4 separate regions of the Homo sapiens genome follow, and all the other regions are linked to region 4. The links come from fine-mapping of genetic effects on gene expression. A gene starts in region 4. Each other region holds a variant in brackets. All regions are shown on one strand. Distances are between the middles of the regions. Region 1 has its middle 29 kb from the start of RASA2. Region 2 overlaps ZBTB38 (zinc finger and BTB domain containing 38). Region 3 overlaps ZBTB38 (zinc finger and BTB domain containing 38). Region 4 holds the start of ZBTB38 (zinc finger and BTB domain containing 38).

Region 1 (5,151 bases), 90 kb before region 4:
TTGAGAGGGCTGGCAAGTCAGTCCATTATACATAGGTACTGTCTGTGGCTAGCTGTTGGCCCACAGGTAGCTCATAGATGCCTCTTGTTTTTGGGAGCTTGAAAGGTGGATATCATGGGAGTAGAGAGTAGAATGATGATTACCAGCAGCTGGGAAGCAGGGGTGATCAGAGAGGTTGAATAATGGGTACAAAGATACAGTTAGAAGGAGTAAGTTCTAGTGTTCAATAGCACAGTAGGGTGACTATCGTTAACAATAATTCATTGTATATTTTAAAATAGCTAGAAGATTTGAAATGTTCCCAACATCAAGAAATGATAAATGTTTGAGGTTCCATATCATGGTATCATTTCCTCCTCTACGAGGATCTATGTATGTTACCTCAGGCCACGTTGTGTGTGTGGGGTGTGTGTATGTGCATGTGTATGCACACGGGCTTGTGTCCTGGGGTGGGAGTCTCCTCTCAGTCATCCAGGCAAGAAGCAGGTGGATTAAGTTTATGATTGGGCTAAACACGGAAAAATACAATCCAAGGTGAAAGCAGAACCCGCTGTTCTCTGTGTGTCTTATTCTGAGTATTAATGTTAAACACCCTTAGGTTTGGGATATCAAAGCCTACTACTGAGAAAAAAAAAACTGCTGATGGCCCACGCACACTTGGTTAGTGCAACACTGCCATTTATCTCCTTCAATGAGCTAAGCAGCCATCAGGTTAAGAAGAGGGCAGGGGAGAGGCGGGCACAGCCTTATTGGGATGATGCTGTCCCGCTGCTGACTCCCAGCTGGTACGGCAGTGACCTCTGCTGGCAGGATTTTCCTCTCCAGTGTGCACAGAGAGTAGGAGTTCCCTCGGAGTCTGTGTGGTTCAGTAGTGTTCTTCAGAGAGATGCCCCAAGACTGATGCTCACGGAGAGGGCCGACTGGGCTTTCCTGCTAAAACTGTCACTAAAGGCTGGGGTTACACAGTCAGGAGTTGAGACAGATTCTTACCCTTGCTTCAGTGAACTTTCTCTCAAACACATATGGCTTCTTTACGTTACTCATTTTCAGATCTAAACATATTTCTTTAAAAATATGTTCTCAAAAAGAACAAAACAAGGGTTGCTGGGCGCAGTGGCTCACACCTGTAATCCTAACACTTTAGGAGGCCAAGGCAGGTGGACTGCTTGAGCCCAGGAGTTCAAGACCAGCCTGGGTAACATGGTGAGACACCATCTCTACAAAACATTAAAAAAATTAGCTGGGTTTGGTGGCACGCACCTGTAATCGCACCTACTCAGGAGGCTGGGGTGGGAGGATAGCTTGAGCCTGGGCGTTCAAGGCTGCAGTGAGCTGAGATCGCGCCACTGCACTCCAGCCTGGGCGACAGAGTAAGACCTTGTCTGAAAACAAAAACAACAACAAGTGTCACCCAAACAAATCCATGACATTTCTTGAGAATAACATATTTACAATCTGACAAGGTGATGTGAAAACACTCTCAAAACTTTTGTGTGTGTGTAGAGGACAGGAGCTGAAGCATCCTTTACAAATACATGAATCCTACTCCTCAATTCAGCACACCACATCTTACCCACAAATAAGTGTGAAATGCTGTTGTTGGACAAGGCCTTGGCAGAACTTTTTCTTACCTATCCTGACATATCTATAATGGAATACTCCAGGCTAGAAAGCTAGACAGCCAAGTTGAAGCCATCGTGATGGCTTTGAGGGTCCCTCATGCAGAGTTACTGACTAAGCAGCCCTTGTCCACAAAGCTCTCGTCCCCGTGGAACCACGTGGTGGCACTTGATGGCCATTCCCAGCCCACCCAACCTTCTCTGATCACCGTGTTTGTCCTTGGGGTGGGGCCCCTGCAGCTATCTTCTACTATAGGGCTCTGTCCCTTTCACCAGAGCTCATCAGATCATGGGAGAACCAGTCTCTTTAGTGGGGGTGGGGAAGGAGGGCCGTGGATTCCTTTGCCTGTGAGGTCCTATAGGGCTGGCTAGTATCTTCCATCCACAGGCAGGGAGAGGCAGAGAAGGCTGATGATTAGCACAGACAGAAATGAAGAAAGGTGACACGGGGGACACAGAGATGACAAGAGGTGGAGAGAGGGAAGTTTTCTGCTTCCTGTTTCCAGCTTTTCCCTGTCCTCCCTTAGTTTCTTTTTTCCTTCCAACATCACATTTTGCTTAAGCAACTAAAGATCCCTAAGACACGAACTTCTGTTTAGTTTGCATTTAATACACAGCAGAAGAATTCCAAAAAGTTTTACTTGAGAGCTCAGAATTGGAATTACCTTCATTCCAACTACCAAGAACCCTCAGAATATTGTATGGCCTCTGTTCATCATATTTTCTGGTTAAATAAGAGTTAAGCAGAAAACTTTTTTTCTCTTTGTTTATATCTGTATTATAAAAATATGTCTAAAATGTAAACACAAAAGCAAAAGATTAGAAACAAATGCTAGCCAATTATTAGACAATGGGTTAAACATTCATACAATGTCCCATGATTTGAGGGAGCCTAAACAAATTCATACAATGGAATACTATGCAGTCACTAAAAGAATAAAAGAGATCCATATGTCCCAGCATAGAAAGTTTTCCATTATCTATTGTTAAACAAATGAAATAAGGTAGTGAGTGGCATGTGTAGTGTGCTCTCATTTATATACAACAAGAAAAAGAAAGGAAAAAATTTGTAAGTTTAAATGCACACACACATATATATATTATATATATATAAAATATATATATGCTTAGATATGCATGGGATATCTATGGAAGGACACCCAAGATCTGGTAACAGTGTATACTTTTAGGGAGAAACCTGGGGGCAGAGAGGGAGGGAGACCATTTTTCTCTGTGTACCCTTTTGCAGTATTTGAAAATTATTTTTTCTGTGTACATGTATTAGCTTTTAAAATACATACATAATACACAAGTACACAAAAATGTATTATCTCTCTTTATACTACAATTACAGAGTAGTCATTTCTCTTAATCATACGAGTTCCTGGAACTTGAGGTAGGCAGATCTTCATACATGTCCACACTGGTTGGGTCACCTATTCTAACATGTTTGCTTTCATGCATAAAAACCATTGAG[T/C]GGCCAGGTAAAAGCAGGAAGAAGTGAAGGCTGGTGTTCCTGGAACCACACAAAGTGAGGGCAGAAGGGAAATGTGGAGAGTGTAGTCTGAGCACCAGTAAGTTGATATCTGAGGTTGAGGAACTGCCAGTCAGTAAACTGGGGCTGTCATTCCTGTGTGGATTGTCATCACTCAGAGCAGCAGAGTCCTTGGACTTGGGCCTTCACTTGCTGCATTGATTAAATGGTGAAAACAAGACCTTCTTTCCAGGTTCTTCTGAATAAAGATGAAAGTATGTGCCTGGCTCAGTTAGTCTTAGCTCGATGCAGAGTGTTTTGTGGTCATTTTGATAAATTTTTCTTTAATGTGTCCTGAAAGGAGGTGCGTACCCTATATTAGTAGAGATTCTGAGTGTCAACTCTGATGTTAGATGTCCTGGATGTGGATTCAGACTCTGCTCTTGAGAGGTTATCATTAGAAATATCTCTGCTCCCTTTGAAGACTTTTTATTTTTTTTTTTGAAGAGTGTGTTTTCACTTGTTTTGGAGAACTTGATTTCACTCAGCATGGATATCTTTGTCTATCAACTGGGGAGAACCAGTCTGAGACTGAAGCTAATGCAGAGGAAAGTAAGAGAGAAAAGGGACAGAGAGTGAGGGGTTGAGAGAGATATCATTTTGCTAGAGCCCTTGAATTCAGTTTTGCTTAAAGCCAGCTATATCCTCCCCATATCATGAACAACTGGGTTTCTATCTCTGGCAATGGAGAAGGTCTTGACTCAGTTTCCTCATTCTTGTGTTGAGATTTAAAAAAACACGTGCTAGAAACCGGCTTATATGCTTCCTTCCCAATCCCATCAGGTGGCCACCAGTCACCTGATCCTGATTTCAGATATGGTCTGAAGGTGTGGCTGATGAATAAGAGGGTTAGGGGGTTTTCCTAAAGGAAATTCAGGTGCTTTCACCCATAAACATAGAAAAGGACTCAGCAGGAAAACCTGTAGCTTTCCTCCACACTGGGCAGGATGTAGTGGAAGACTTGTACTCACTGATTTTTAGGGTGGACGCTATCAAAAATTCTGAGAGGCAAATGCCTTGTGTGGGCAGCTGGAAGCAGTATGGTGAGCTTGGTTTCCCAGGAGGTTTTTCAGAGAAATGAGAGAAGTAGGAGTGACTGTGAAATCACTGAAGGATTTTAGTAGGGCTCTGGAGATTGGGTCCCAAGGTTCTTCCCTCCATTTTCTCATGCCAGACTTGTGCAGCCTGGCCAGATTTCTGTGTGGCCTAGGTGTTTCCTCACTGCTCAGGAAAGAACGTCCTATTAGTTGTTTGAAACTGAAATTGGCCAGTGAGTTCTACTTCTACCATGCCTGCTGATGCTCCTTTCCTTTCTGAAGAGGCTCTTCCCCGTTAGGGTGACCCATCGTCCTCATTTGCCTGGGACTGTCTCAGTTTTAGCACTGAATGTTTTGCAACTTGGGAGAGTCTTCAGTGCGAGGCACACCAAGGCAGTTGGTCATCTGGAGTGGCGAATCGGCACACTTCATAGATGACTTGCATTTGACCGCAGCATGCTGATGCTGGGAACATCCGGGAGGAGCTCGCTGGCTGACGGCAGAGGCAGAATTGAAAACGGCTGAATCCAGAGAGCTGTGGTGGGGCTGGAGGTCAAGGCAAGCAGAGGCGTGAGGGGCTGTCTCACACAACACTGCAAGGAAGAGGCTTTTGATGGGGCCTTTGAATTAGGTATTGAGAAATGATCACGTCTGTGGATGGGGCTGGGGTAGGGATGGGCATGAACGTTTCAGCATGGTCAGGAGCTTGTATACACAGACAGCGTGATGAGAAGCCAGGCATTTTGGAGAGTGATGACAGCCGCCCCCTCAACACTCGCAAGGCGGGGAGCAAGTGTACAGATGGAGGCGTATATATCATGTGTCTAAATATTTAAAAGGTATAAACCAGGCTAGCAAGTTCTTAATTAAATATATTCTGTTCTCCTCCCTTGACAAATATACTTTCACAGCAATCTGGAAGACCGTGTTGGAATGTGGAATTCCTAGTTTCTGGCATTTC
Region 2 (5,151 bases), 41 kb before region 4:
TTGCATTAATTCAAGGGAAGGGCTGAACACACTACAGAAGGCATGGTTCAGCCACAGGCACCGGTTATGGCTGTAACCACTGTAAATCTCTTCCACGAAAGAGCATCAAAGACCTGCACAGAGACCTTGAGAAACCTTGCTCTTTGGGCTCAAGTCAGGGACTATAAGACCAGACTAAATAGGTTTAAGCAGGGACAGATCAGAATGCTGAGTAGGTTTTTCAAAAAGGAAATCCTCATTTAGGTGTCTAGGAGCCAATCACTGTGCTATTAAAACTAATCGGAAATCTCCATGCTTACATGAAAACGCACAAAAGTATGGGGAGACTGATCTGAATATGTGGGTCTCCCTTGCCTGGCAAGATAATGAATTCATCTTTGTTTGGACTGAATTGGTGGTCTTATTATCTAATTGTCATCAACTCTACAAACAGTCAGTTGTTCTAACACATGAACAGGAAAAATAACATAAATAAAACAGGGCCTAGAAACAATATCCAACTCACAAAGCAGGAAGTGACAGCTCATATCTGTCTCACCTTGCACAAAGCCTGCCTTCACGGGTTGCTGAAATAATCCCAAGATACCCTTCCAGGACTTAAACAGCCACTGGATTTTTCATGAAAATGCATCCTGGTATGAACACTCACAGTAGTGGCCAGAAAAATAGGGGTGCGCAAGCTGGGTCTTCCTCTCTCCCTGCGTAAATGTTTTAATTTCTTTCAATATTAAGTTATAATACAGCTTAGGAATTTTCATTTACATAAGAGAGGAGAAATGCTTTTGTAAGATGGAAAACAGCCTTCTGTCTCTCCCAGGTCAAAAATAAATTTGCTTGACTATCTTAATTGGCAAAAACCCAAGGGCTCCAACTGGACCGGAAGCTTTGCATCACGGTGTCCTACTGCGTGTGTCTGCTGGAAGCCCAGCAGATGTCATGGTCAGCTTGCTCTCATGGGACAATGCCAGTCCTTCTTTAAGCTTTGCTGCTGACTGCCATCTCCTGCTCTTCTGATAACCTGCCTTTTTCTGGCAGACTGGGCCTAGGACAGTGGGTTCTGTTCCCACTTTGCCACTAATGATGTGGCCTTGAGCAAGTCCTAAGACTTCTCTGGACTCTTCTTATCTGGAATGCAAAGAGGTCGGGCTAGTTTATTTCCCAGGTTCCTTGTAAGCATTAAATTTGAAAACCATGATTACCAGCCTGTCCCAATCCTTCTGTAAGAGTCTTCATTCCCTCAAAAGTGGACAATCTCCCACCCTTAAATTCATGCACTTTCCTCAAGTGTAGAGGGTTAAAGGCAGAACCCAAAGTCTGGCTAATATCGGCATATCTATGAGGACAGGAGGGAGCTACTACATTGAGACCCCTGGGAGACCTCAGACTGAGTCCCTGCCCCTGCTTGTCCCAGCACCTCTGCTTTTCTGCTCAAAAGAAAATAAAGTACTACACCTTAGAGCCGGAAGGAAACAGCCACCATTGAGCAAAACCTTCTTTGGTTATAGGTGAGGAAACCAAACAAGCAAAGTCATGCTGGGAACAATTCCTAGGCCTCCCCTCTGGATTCTCACGAATGTCTTTCTTCTCACCCCAACCCAGCCCTGCAGGGGCTCTGGGCAATTTTCCTAGCCCCCTGTAGAGTTCCTCAGGGCCTCAGAGGGTAATCAACAAACATTTACTTAGCCCTCTGGGCAATCCCCCAAGGAGCAGTTTTAAACTTTCAACTGGTATAGGCTCTGGGAACATTTAGCCCAGCACAGTGACAGTGACAGCTATAGCAAGACACAAATTGATTGATCTGATCAGTGTGGAACTCCATTGGTGTTTTACTCTAAAAGAAAGGCTTGCAGCAGCAGCACAGACAGTAGATAAGGATAGGTTAGGGATATAGGGAGGCTCCATGAGGGTGGGGTCCTGATCTCCTACCTGGCACGTAGTTGATACTAAGTAAATATTTGCTGAACAAATTCAAGTTTGCACATTATCTCTGCTCCATTTGCTTCTTGTCAAAAATTCTGAGGTTACAATAATATTAAGGATGAGGATCTCTGAGCCTCTCAGTTAAAATCAGGAACAAATACCTGTTTCATACTCTCACTATGTGGCTGGGGAGGCAGCCCAGAGTGTGGAGAGAAGAGGCTGGCCTTGTGAGTCAGACAGACCCCAGGGTGTAAAAATCTCACCTCAGGATGGGCACGGTGGCTCACGTCTGTAATCTCAGCACTTTGGGAGGCTGAGGCCGGTGGATCACCTGAGGTCAGGAGTTTGAGACCAGCCTGGCCAACGTGGTGAAACCCCATCTCTACTAAAAATACAAAAATTAGCTGGGCGTGGTGGCAGTTGCCTGTAATGCCAGCTACTTGGGAGGC[T/C]GAGACAGGAAAATCACTTGAACCCGGGAGGCAAAGGTTGCAGTGAGCTGAGATAGCGCCACTGCACTCCAGCCTGGGCAACAAGAGCAAAACTCCGTCTTAAAAAATAATAATTAAAAAAAAATAAACTCCCATCTCTACAATCTTGGCTGTAGTTGAGTTTCTTTTTGCTTCACTTGCCACACCATGTTGTCTGAGGTTCTAAAAGATGGCTGAGATAATGCATATAAGGTACAGACCTAACTCCATGAATGTCAGTTCCATCCTCTTTCCTTGGGAGCTGTGGGTATAGAGAGAGAAACTCTGTTTCTAGGAAAGGCTCCAGGCCATCAGCATCCTCCTCCAAAGAGGCAAACCAGCAAGAGGATGCTGACATCGTTTTAAAATGACTCAATATAGTTTTCATAAATATATTCCCAATAAGTCATCTGATTTCTAAACTATGTATAGAGAACATAAAGAGCAATTCCATATACATGTCAAATGTTTTATACTTTCCATATCTAAGTTAAACACCAAACATGTCTATATATCTCAATCCTTTGTTGTGAATAAACAAAGAGGGAAGCTAGAATTAGGAAGAAAAAAATGATACATTCTTTTTTTTTTTCTTTTTTGAGATGGAGTGTTGCTCTATCACCCAGGCTGGAGTGCAGTGGTGCGATCTCAGCTCACTGCAACTTCTACCTCCCAGGTTCAAGTGATTCTCCTGCCTCAGCCTCACAAGTAGCTGGGGCTACAGGTGTGCGCCACCATGCCTGGCTAATTTTTGTATTTTCAGTAGAGATGGGGTTTTGCCACGTTGGCCAGGCTGGTCCCGAACTCCTGACCTCAGGTCATCCATCAGCCTTGGCCTCCCACAGTGCTGGGATTACAGGCATGAGCCACTGTGCCCAGCCAAATGATTTTTTCATCTATAAAATGGAGTTGGGATAGATGAAGAATATGAACTTTAGCCTAAAAATTAAGTGACTTTAAGATGCAGAGATTGAGGGAAATAATACAATGACAGAGATGTTTATCCACCAGAAGACAGAGTCATGTAGAATACTTTAATGGCATGACTGTAGTGTTGTCACATATTGCTAACAAACAAGTTACAATGGTTTTGCAAACTCTGGCCATGGGGACAGGGTGTCATCACTTATTCCCCAGAAAAAGAAACTGGTTTGCAGGCAGCTTGTTACCCAGTACTGTGATCACACAGCAGAGAGCAATGAGATGATGCGGGGTGGGAGGGTGCAATAATACCACCATTCCCTGACTCTCTGGAACGTATTTGTTTTTGTCTGATTATGCATATAATCCATTAACATTAATGATATAAAAATTTTGAGTATAGACATATCTCTAGTAGAAACAGGAGTTGAAACTAGCATCTCAAATCTCAGGTTTATCTCTTCCTCTGCTTCGCAGAAATTGGCAATTGTTAATCTTCGTCACCAGCCATGACAGTGCTGTTTAAAATGCAGATTCCCTTGCCCCACCTGGGAATCTACATTTTGACAAGTTCCCCAGGTGGATTCTTGTCCATACTAAATTGATGATCACTGGGACTAACCCAGAATAAATCAGTGGTAATAGGAGATGTGTGCTTTCTGTGATAAAATTAAAAATTAAAATGAGTCTTAAAGATAAGGCTTTACGTGTAGATGCACAATATATAAATTTACATATCTATACAAGGTTGTGAGGGGAAGGGAACCAATATTAATTAATTACCTACTATGGTATATAGAAATCCTGACCAAATTATGTATTAATTAGTCTTCCAAATAATCCTATATGAGTTATGCATGGAAAAAGTCAGGCTTAGAGAGAAACTCTTCTAAAGTCACAAGTCTGGAAAGTGGCCCAGCTAGGTTGTGAAACTAGATTTATCTGACCCCGGTCTCCTCATTCCATTGTACTAAGCTCATATGCACGTGAAAATGCGCAGACACGCACATGTCATACAATAGCCATATGGTAAAAGGCAATGGAATTACATTACTGTTAGAAACTTTTTGAGTCAACAGAAATGTATTTTTTAAAGGACTCAATTCTATTAAGGGATATTCTTTAATTTGTATGCTGACAACAGAATACAGTGTATGACTACTATCAAAACCACATTTAACAGCCTGAATTTTCATAATCAGAAATGTGTTTTGGGACTTGCCGGGGACAAATTTAAGAGTGATTCTTGATTTGTGTAAATTTGAGTGGTTTAATTTGTGTAAATTAAACCACTTAATATTCATCATACACGTCATATTACCTTAAAAAGGAAAACACCAACAATGTAACTTTGCACTTGTGAATCCACCAGTCTTCCTAAGCTCATCCCTCACCTTCCACGGTCTGACATGCCTGGCTCCCTCCATTAGGAACCCCCTTCCGCTGGCTTCTGGAGTTGCATTCCTCCATGGTTCTTCCTTACTATCTTGCCAGACTTCTATCTGCTTCCCTAGATCTTCCTTTCTTTTCTCAAAAGGCTCCATCCTCAACCATTTTTCCCCTATATTCTCTCTCAAAAATCTCTTTTCCCATCTCTTGACTTTTTCTTATAAACCAAAGACTCCCAAATGAGCCCTGGCCTTCTTGTGGAGCGCAAAGCCCCCTTCTGCCTGGGAGACAGCATGCTTCAACACTGCAAACACAGCACCTCTAAAATGTAGCTCCTTACCTCCTTCTGAGTTTCCTCCATGGGTACCACTGCTCTGGAAATCGCAGTGTCAGCTTTAGCTGTTCCTTCACTGAGACATCAGATTCTGTCAGTTCTTCCCTTTGCATCTATTCC
Region 3 (5,151 bases), 71 kb before region 4:
GTTAAGGGTCTCATCATCATTCAAGGCTGCTGCTTTGAACTACTAGAGCTGGGCAATGCCATGGTCCTGCCAGAAGCTTCCTGCCTATTTTCAAAGAGAAATCTGATGATCCAGTCACAACCATGAAGCAGGAAAATGATTTTTTTTTTTTTGAGACAAAGTCTCGCTCTGTTGCCCAGGCTGGAGTGCAGTGGTGTGGTCTCCGCTCACTGCAACCTCCACTTCCCCGGCTCAAGCGATTCTCTCACCTCAGCTTCCTGAATAGCTGGGACCACAGGTGAGAGCCACCACGCCCGGCTAATTTTTGTATTGTTGGTAGAGACAGGGTTTCGCTATGTTGCCCAGGCTATTTTTTTAAATGAATTTTCCTTAAGTGGTACCTATATGCAAAGCTATTGCCCACTCAGAGAAGAAGCAAGAACTGAAGGAGCCCTTCCTAATTTGTGGCTCATAAGGGTCAATCTCTAGAGTTGCAGGGTGTGTAACCAAGTCTGACCACCAGGGGCACCCCCGCCTCTCTGCGCTATTGGCCCTATGGTGACTCATCAGGTTCCTTTTCTAGTTTCCCCTTTAGTAGAGACAAAGTAGACTAGGGTTTTCAAAAAGAACTGTCAGGTACTGAAGGCAACTAAAAAGGAGACAAAATGTAAAACCAGGAAAGGACATTTCTAAGTCCTTTGACAAGAACGGACAAGAATGAATCTAGTCATAGATTCCTGAATTAGCACAACTTCAAGGCACAGTGGCTCTTGTTCTGGTCTGAGGATCCCATCTCCATTCTTCTCTGTATTTTCTATATTCTCTATATAAGTCCTATTCCATGAGTCTGGTGTGCTAAAGCTTACTAACTGATATTATAGTGAGGGGCAGTGAAAAGTAGCAGCTTTCATACTTCCCACAGTAAGAGATACACAGTACATAGTGACCTAAGACACAAATGAAATTAACACTCACCCTTACTAGGTGTGATGCATTCTGTTCTGCTCTAGTATTTTTCTTTTCTTTCTTTTTCTTTTCTTTTTTTTTTTTTTTTTTGAGATTGAGTCTCGCTCTGTCACCAGGCTGGAGTGCAATGGCATGATCTCAGCTCACTGCAACTTCCGGCTCCAGGGTTCAAGCGACTCTCCTGCCTCAGCCTCCCGAGTAGCTGGGACTACAGGTGCATGCCACCACGCCCAGCTAATTTTTGTATTTTTAGTAGAGACGGGGTTTCACCATGTTGGCCAGGATGGTCTCGATCTCTTGACCTCGTGATCTGCCCGCCTCAGCCTCCCAAAGTGCTGGGATTACAGGTGTGAGCCACTGCACCCAGCCTTTTCTTTTAAAGAATGCTTACAGCAACTCACTAATTTCACTACCCAGTAATAGATCACCACATGCAGTTAAAAGTAAAGCAAAACAAACAAACAAAACACACACACAAAAAAACCCTCTGGTCTACAGAACATACTAACCAGAGATTCATCCAGTCTCTCTGTGCTATTCTGTATTAAGAGACGTCTCCAGAAAGCCTTACAGTTTGATGATACTTCTTTAACTCTCAGTGGCAATGTTTTCCTAGCAGTAAAGTATAACATTTAGCTCATGGCATTTATTTAGTTGGATGGACCAGATGGCCACACAAAGAACCTCTCTACCTTTTTGTAAAGCTGCTATTATAAGCTGTGACTATTATGTTATTTAGTGTCCTTTATACAAGGATCCATTTGATAAATTCTTTTATTGTATCCAGTCATAGGAAAAAAGTACCTTTCTACTAACAAATTCTTCAATTCAGATAATGAGAACACTATATTCACCATGTTTCTGTTTTAATTCTCAAGACAAAGAAGCTCAGAACTAACTTTTATCATCAATTGTTGTAGCTATTCTTGGCCTGGGTTTCTGGTGTGCCTATTGTTTCATTTTCTTTATTTAACATTAGTTCTTCTGCTCTTGTTTACCCTGCCTTTAACTGTAATCTTCCATGAATCTTTTCTAGAAGTATGGGGGATTATTTCTACAAATAAAACTAGAATGAAATGAAATGGAATCTTATGACTTCCTCTTTGCCCCTGAAGGGAGAAAGGGTGACCCCGGAGTGAAGGAGTCTGTCCTTCACTGGGTCACAGATCAATAGCATACTTTGCTGATGTTTCTTTTGCCTTCTTTCAAGTCTCTCGGCTCTGGGCCCCTGTAGGATCTCCTTTCTCCCCTGACTCATATATTTTTATCATGTTTGGCTTCTTGGAAGCCCACATGTTATTTTAATTCTTTATCAGCCTGACTAGATAGCTTCAGATCTGACAAAACACATGCTATATGATTCAAAAAGGTGGCTTAGGTCTATGCTGACATCATCTATTTTGTCTTTCCAGTTCAAAACTACTGCTTCTTCCAAAACATTCTGCTTCACAGCATCCTGAACCTCCCTTTAGGCTCTGCTTCCATTTGCGGAATACGGCATTTCAAATCAGGCTAATGAACACTCTAGGGTGTCCTGACTCAGATTTATAATATACAAAGCCCCAACCACTTCTGTGGGGTTCTGATTCTTCTCTCAGATTGTTCAACTAGGATGGTTAGCAAAAGGCCAACTCTTAACATGGAATAATATTGTAGTCATACTTAACAGAACAACATATACAATAAATATCATTATATATGTCATTAAAATATTGTCATAACTTTGCAAAATCCAAGCATGACATTTTTCAG[C/A]GGGGATATCTACCTTTGTGTGTCAGAAAGCCTTTAAAAATCATAGTTAATAAGTAGCACCTTGATTTGCCTTCTTGACACACCTTTTAACAACTTTATCCAGCAAATATGTTAATATGGTCAGACACAGTACTTGGGTGCTAGAGTTATACTGGAGATATGAACAGGAGGAAGGCAAGTCTCTGCTCTCAAGGAGCCCAGAGTCTAGGGGAAGAAAGAGAACTGTCAACTAATCATTGGAATCCATGATGGCAGGCCATATACTGGAGATAAGTATAAAATGTTAGAAGAGTAAGTACAATTATTTACAGAGGCCCTGGATTACTTCCATAAATAAGTAAAACAGGGGTATAGGAAGGATGCTGTAAGCAGAAGGAACACTATAGGCAAAAAAAAAAAAAAAATTAAAAATGATCAAAGTGGGTACTGTTCTCAGGGGCTAATGAGGGAGTCTGAGTGGTAGCAGGAGTAGTGTGTGCAGCCCAGTCGACAGCGTCTATGTGGGGCCAGGCACATGGCAGGCCTCAGCATGTATCTGTTGAATGAGAGAGCTTGGGAAAGAAGGGTCAGACCAGATCATAAAGGGCCCTAAAGGACTCCCTACAGTTAAATTTTATATTGCAGGGAATAGGGAACCATTGAGAGTTATAATGAAATTTGAGCTTTTTTAAAAAAAAATCACGCAGCCTGCAGTATGCTGAAAGGCTCAGAGGGAGGCAGGCTGCAGGCAGGAGACCAATAGGCCATCACAGTGGTCCAGGTAAAAAGTAGCTATCCACCCCAGACAGAGTGAGAGCCTGGGGAAGAACAGATGACTCCACTTCCCAGCTAATAAAGTGGGATGGGGTGGGCCAGGCGTGGTGGCTCATGCCTGTAATCCCAGCACTTTGGGAGGCCGAGGCAGGTGGATCACCTGAGGTTGGGAGTTCATGACCAGCCTCACCAACATGGTGAAACCCCGTCTCTTCTCAAAATACAAAATTAGCCGGGCATGGTGGCACATACCTGTAATCCCAGCTACTCGGGAGGCTGAGAGAGAAGAACTGCTTGAACCCGGGAGGCGGAGGTTGTGGTGAGCCAAGATTGCGCCATTGTACTCCAGCCTGGGCAACAAGAGCGAAACTCCGTCTCAAAAGAAGAAAAAAGAAAAAAAAAAAAGAAAGAAAGTGGGATGGGGTGTTGGAGGTGGTGATGGCATCTGAATTCAAAATTTAATTCTCTTAACAAATATTTATTGAACAATTGCTAGGCAGAAGGCATCAGCTAAGTGCTATAGAAAGACATGCGTTCAATCAGCTGGGCATAGTGGCGTGCGCCTGTAGTCCCAGCTACTCGGGAGGCTGAGGCAGAAGAATTGCTTGAACCCAGGAGGCAGAGATTGCAGTGAGCCAAGATTGCGCCACTGCACTCCAGCCTGGGCAACAGAGCGAGACTCCATCTCAAAAAAAATAAATAAATAAAAGAAAAAGAAAAAGAAAAAAGAAAGGCAAGCGTTCATCCCTCCTTTGAACGAATGCTTACTGAATACCTATTATGTGCTTTGAGACATTGGTTCCTAAACCTGGTCAGGCATCAAAATCACCTGGGAGGTATTCAGATAGTACAGCTTTACAGATTCCACCTCCCCTGCTCCTATAGAGATTCTGGTTTAGAACAGCTGGAGTGAGACCCTGGAATCCATATGTATTTTTATACCTTAATTTCTCTTGTGAATAAGTAATACATACATATAATTATCAAATTGAAAAAGCACACAAAGTAAACATTGGAAAGTCTCCTTCCCACCTTGTTCCAGAGGAGCACCTTATTTCAGGTAGTTTTTAATCAACCAGCCAGAACCGTTCTAAGGGCTGACACTAAAACTCAGTGCCATAAGAGAAACAAAAATTCTACACTCAAAGGTTTGCAGGGTGGCAGGGGAACTAAGATGTGCTCATGAAACACTGCAAAACAAAGATACCCAGGGAACATCCAGGATCAGGCATGCAGGGAAAAGGTATGGGAGTTCAACAGAGAGTAAGGGAGGCAGAAGGACGTGGTATGTACTGGATCCTGCTGCTGGAATTGAGTGCTGCAGATATGGACAAGAGGAGAAAAGGGAACTTCAGGCAGAAAGAGACAGAGTCAGAGTTTCATGCCCTCAAGAAGTTTATAATCCAGGAGTCAATGCAACTGCTTAAAACAAAGAGTCCAAATCTGCGAATGGAACTTGAAAAAAAGCAGTGAAACTTGTTGGAGAAGCAATTTAAAGTTAAGACTCTAGTATCCACCTCTCCAATCTTAACAGTGCCCGCTCCCAAAACCACCAAGTATCGTCAAAACTGTCTTTAGAGCACAGTTATCCAGCTCATTGGATGATCTCAGAAAGTGCTACGGCTAAAAGCTATTTCACAGGTCCAAAGTGCAACAAGGAAATGAGTTCTAAATCTGCAGACCAAAGGAGGCCCACTGTAA
Region 4 (5,151 bases):
GTTGAGAAATCTCATCCATTGCATCTTGCCCTCATGGCCAGATGTTACCTAAGAGTGTCAGTCAGGAAAACCTAAATGTGGATAATTGTTTACTTCTCCCACTGTTTCTATGCAACTTTATCCTTGAGTATCTCCAAGTTTCTTTTATGTGCTGTGCCAGAGAGAACTACCTCTTCTTCAGAAACCCCTCCAGAGCTGTCACTGCTAAGTGGCTGCTCCACCAAGGACTACATTTCCCAGACTCCTCTGTGGTTAGCTGTGGTCATGTGATGGAGTTTTAGCCAATGGAATGTGAGTAGAAGTAACACGCACCACTTCTAGGCAGAGCCCATAAAAAACTCCCATGTGCACTTTTTCATGCTCTTTTCTTACTGCACTGAGGAGTGGAGACACCCCTAGGCGACCTTGAAAACCACATGCTGCAGAAGGCAAAGCCCCTCTCTACCTGTGTCTCTGAATGAATGCATGAAAGACAGTTGCCCCACTGACCTGTACTGTTACATGAGCAAGAAATAAACTATTGTGTTTGAGCCATTATAGATTTGGGGTTCTATTATAACAATTAGCCTATCCTAATATCCTTTTTAATATAGCTGTAATCATTGTGTACAGAAATCTCTGTGCCCTTTCCCCTTTTCTTTGAATCTTACCACAAACTAAAAAAGGAGAATTGGGAGACTTAAATTTAAGTAGCTGTTGGGGACAAATGACACTTACCAAATTAGTGGTCACAACATTCAGATCTTAGAGCCAGAAGAACAGGACTACAGCAGAGCCTCACTTCAAGACAACCTAATATATTAAAGTAAAACAAAAAGTAAAACATAAGGCCTATAAAACAGATATTTTAGTGTGTGATAGTTAATTTCCAAAGGGAGTTGTCCATTTACAAAGGAATATGCCACTGTTTTCCAGTAAATGACAAGCTTCCTTACTGCCTTTAAAATGAGACTTACGCCTCCCCGCTCCCAGTCATTTTAACATAGAATTTCTGAAGAACAGATCTCCCCTGGTACGTCAGCTATACGAAGACTAGATGCTGACTCAGGGGATGACTTAGAAGCCGGGAAAATCAGGGTATGATTTCTATGCCTACGTGCTGTTCTCATGTATGTGTCAAAACTTTTCTCTTGGGAACTTAACTTTCTTGGGTAGGAACTTCCAGAGGTCGTGAAATTATAGGCTTTGTAAAGAACTATGAGTTTTTAGACAAAGTTAAAACAGACACATTGTGTCTTTGTGCTTAATATCATCCCAGATACGATGGCACAAGTAGGAATGAAAATAAGTCCTCTGTAAACAGGGCGATAAGATAATGGAGGTTCATACACAGAACAATCAGAAACGTGCTCAGTAAAGGCAGCACAATTATGTACATCTTTTTACCAGGGCTGTCATATTTTACCAGGTTAAGTGTGAAAATACCATTTGATGGCACAGGACACGTATTTGCCTAGAACAGGGTTTATTTTTATGTCTGATCGCTCAGTATAAGATCTAGGAAGCAAACAATCCAGAACTCTGAACAAACATTCTGACAGCCTGAAACGGAATACTCAGGTGAGGGGAGGAAGAGGAGGCAAAACAAGAGGGTTGACAGGGAAAGGCATCAGTTGGGCTGTTCTCCCCAGGGTTTCCGTCTTAGTATTGTTTTTTTTTTTTTTTTTTGCATTCTTTTCTGATCCTGTGGAGAGAGATATCAGATCCCTTTGGGGCCGTATTTAGAGGGTCTCCCAAATGCAGTCCCTACTCCCAACTCTGGGCTGGGGCTTGGCAAGCTGTAGGCGTCAGGGAACAAGATGGCGCCCTACGGTGAAGGGCGCTGAGTGAGGGGGGGCCAAAAGTGGGCCTTCACTTACTCGGAGGCGCTGGCTCCTCTGAAACCCAGACGCTGTCAACTCCCTGGGCCCAGGAGTCACAACCGCTTTCGTGCTCTGGGTTCTTCACTTCTTGTGATCAGCTCCACATATTTTTCTGATGATGTCACCCATTCTGACTTCCTACATTTTGAAAGTTGATCTACAAGTAAAATCTTTCGTGAGGCTTAAAAAAAAGAAGAAAAGAAATAAAAGGTGTGCTATAGGGAGATGGAGAGGAAGAGAAAGGCCGTTGCCTCTTTATTTTGAGATTTGCTGCAGCTGCGAGTGCCACTCCCCAACTAGTTTCCTGGCTTCAGAGGGAGGCCAGTGGCCGGGCGTGGGTGACGTCAGGGCCAGGCCTGAGTCATCGCCAGCAGCCCGGGCCGGGCTGCCCTGCCACTCGGAAGGGGACAAAAGGAACCTTTGATGTCCAGAGGCCCTCCTCTCAGCACACTCGCCGGCACAGACCAGCAGGCCAGGAGAACATTCCTGCCGTCTCCCCACCCCCAGCCGCCCTTCCTACTTCCGGAACAGCCCCAGACAGATTCAACAAGGCCTCCCCAAAGGACATCACCCTCCTGCATGGCAGAGGCATGGCCGTGCTCTGTCAGAGAAGCAGGGAAGAAGAAGAGGGTGTTTCCCTGGGGACCTCTCACTGCCCCTCTGCCATCCCCCTTCTTCTGTGTGGTGCCCACCTTACTCAAGGAGTTGCAGTGGTATTGAAAGAGATGCGGAAAGGTGGAAGGCACTTTTGTCACCATCCCCGGGCAGCTCCTGGTGGTCAGTGTCTATTCTCCTCTGCCTCTGTGCTGTGGCCCTGGGCTTCGCTCCCTACCCTGGGTGCCAACATGAACTAGCTCTTCCTGGATTTAAGACATGACCACTCTTTAAAGGGGATATTTATATCTCAGTGCCTGGCATGAGGCTTGGTAATTATATGATGAATTAAGGAATGATAATTGTAAAATAAAATAGTAGAGGACACATATTAAATACTTAGAGTGAACATTCAAGCCTCTGTGCTTTATGAAGATTATTTCATTTATTGGTATTATCACAACAAAAAAGCTGTGAGGTAGGTACTATTAATATTCCTAATGCTATAGAGAAAGAAATGGATGCTCAGAGAGGTTAAGACACTTCTCTAAAGCCTCACAGCTAGTTAGTTCATGGCAGAGCCTGGATCATCTAATCTCACATCCTGTTTTCTTAATCACGGTGCTGAGTGGCTGGAGTGAATGAAGGAATATTGACCAAGGGCAACCTGGCCAGGAGAAAAGAGACAAAGATGGGACTTGAAACCACATCCTACAAGGAAACAATGAAACAATTAGGAATGTTCTGGCAACATGGGCCTCATGCCTTCTTACTGCGTCAACACCAGGTCTGAGGTTTGGCAAGTGGGTGGCTTACTCAGCGTAGCCAGGAGGGCGAATCAGTCATCAGGTTCAAGTGGGGATGAGAAACTAGGGAGGTCGGATGGACGCAAGCCTGTGGCATGTGGTAGATGCAAAATCCGAGAGCCACGGGGTACAGAGTACCTCGGCGGGAGCCAGAGTCCACGCTTGTCTTTGTTGCCTTCTGGCCTCATGGATGTAGGTGGGAGGGTCAGTCCATCTGGGGTGGACAAGAAGGCTACAGGAAGAAGGACATGACGGCACTCTCAAAGATTCCAGACTCAGAAAGAGTTGGAACTGTGGTGTGGTTTTAGAGTGCAGGAGGAGTGAGAAGGGATTGGGAACAGATCTGGACCTGACAATGGTAGTTACTTTCTACTCTTAGCGCCCTCCTACCAGGAATCAGCTGCCTTTCTGGGCCTGAGGAAGAGTCCTGGCAATGGCTGTGGGCAAGCAAAGGCGAGGAGGGGTGGTGAGAAGAGAACATCTGCTTATCGGGGTATCTGGGCCCAGCATAAGAATGACCTACGAGGTAGCTTCTCCCTCTGTGGTTTATGATTCTGTGGTTTGTACTTTTCCATGATTCTCTTAGAGTAAATGTCTCATTCCAAGAGGAAGACAAAACCAGGAATTTCCAGCCCCTTGTGGAGGCCTCCTTGATAACACACCCACAGCTTTCCTTCCCACTGTGGGTGGGGTGTCAGGTCACAGAGACCACTCTCCCTGACTCAGGCAATCTATGCCTCTGATGCCTGGGACATTGTGTAGTTCTACCTTGTTCCTGGGAGCTCTGCCAGTTGCCACTCTGAGGAATTGCACTTGTTCCATGTAGTTTGAATCCCTAGGCAGGTGGAATTTATAGAGGTGAATTTCACAAGAGAGAAAGCTACATGCTTTTAATCAAGGGAGCAGCAGCAACTGATCAGGTTCACTGTCAGTGTCTGCACACAGCCTGATCTTGGGCTGAGGAAATCGCTTTAAGTTCCAGGCATTTTTGGCAGAAGACTTGTTTATTCTTTTCTTCCTTCTCTGCAGAAAATGCCTCTGGGCACCTCCCTGCTCTGTTTCCCCAAAGACTCAGTGGCCTTGCTTGCTTCATATACACAGGTATTTATTTCTCTAATAAGATGAACAGAGGCTGATTATTTCTTCACCCTGCATCCTATCAGGATAATGTGAACAGAAAAATAAAGAAAAGAAGCAGAAATGATCAGTAAGCTTAAGTGAGACACAGATTCTTGGGTTATATGCTCTGGGGTTGATACTAACAGTGAAAATAAAATCAGAGAACTGGGAAAAATATCCACTTGGAGATACAGAGAAGTAAGTACAATGGCACTTCCCTGGTCTCTACGTGAAGTGGAGCATCCTCCTCCTTTGCTACAACAAATGCAGTTAAATGCTGGTAATTAAAACCAAACCTTTATGAATGCAAGGAATTCCTTGGAAGACTTGTCTATACTTGTTGACTTAGATTTCTCTCATTTTATTCCCTCTCTTTAAAAAAAATTATTAAGGTATAATTTACATATCAGAAAGTTCACTCACTTAAAGTGTACAATTCAATGGGTTTTAGTGTATTTACAGAATTATGTAATTTGTAATCTATTTTTTTTTAACACTTTTTGTCACCACCCCAAAAAACACCATGCTTATTAGGTATCATTCTTCATTTGTCCCCACCTACCAGCCCTAGATGACCACTCATCTAGTTTCTGTCTCTATAGATTTTCCTCTTCTGGACATTTTCTACAAATGGAATCATACAATATATGGTTCAAATATTTGTCCTCTCCAAAACTCATGTTGAAATTTAATCTCCAATATGGCAGTACTGAGAGGTGGGGTCTTTCAGAGGTGGTTAATCCACTCATGGATTAATGGATTAATTGGTT

The links.
Region 1: its variant is fine-mapped to the expression of ZBTB38 in whole blood (TOPMed, PIP above 0.99).
Region 2: its variant is fine-mapped to the expression of ZBTB38 in whole blood (INTERVAL, PIP above 0.99).
Region 3: its variant is fine-mapped to the expression of ZBTB38 in whole blood (TOPMed, PIP 0.99).

What each region holds. Positions count from the first base shown.
Region 1 is chr3:141,455,949-141,461,099 of GRCh38, reverse strand. No RefSeq gene overlaps it. Among named protein-coding and RNA genes, the nearest start is that of RASA2, 29 kb to the left of the region's middle. RefSeq lists an enhancer at 4,879-5,151. The variant T/C (reference allele first, on the strand shown) is at 3,097.
Region 2 is chr3:141,406,382-141,411,532 of GRCh38, reverse strand. The region is part of intron 5 of ZBTB38 (zinc finger and BTB domain containing 38); the gene reads right to left. Among named protein-coding and RNA genes, the nearest start is that of ZBTB38, 40 kb to the right of the region's middle. RefSeq lists an enhancer at 1,637-1,726. The variant T/C (reference allele first, on the strand shown) is at 2,370.
Region 3 is chr3:141,436,917-141,442,067 of GRCh38, reverse strand. The region is part of intron 5 of ZBTB38 (zinc finger and BTB domain containing 38); the gene reads right to left. Among named protein-coding and RNA genes, the nearest start is that of RASA2, 48 kb to the left of the region's middle. The variant C/A (reference allele first, on the strand shown) is at 2,698.
Region 4 is chr3:141,365,513-141,370,663 of GRCh38, reverse strand. ZBTB38 (zinc finger and BTB domain containing 38) reads right to left here and starts at 2,160. Exons shown (of 6, transcript NM_001376113.1): 1 at 1,860-2,160; 2 at 718-792. RefSeq lists enhancers at 1,034-1,809, 2,264-2,493, 1,559-2,758, 2,586-3,361.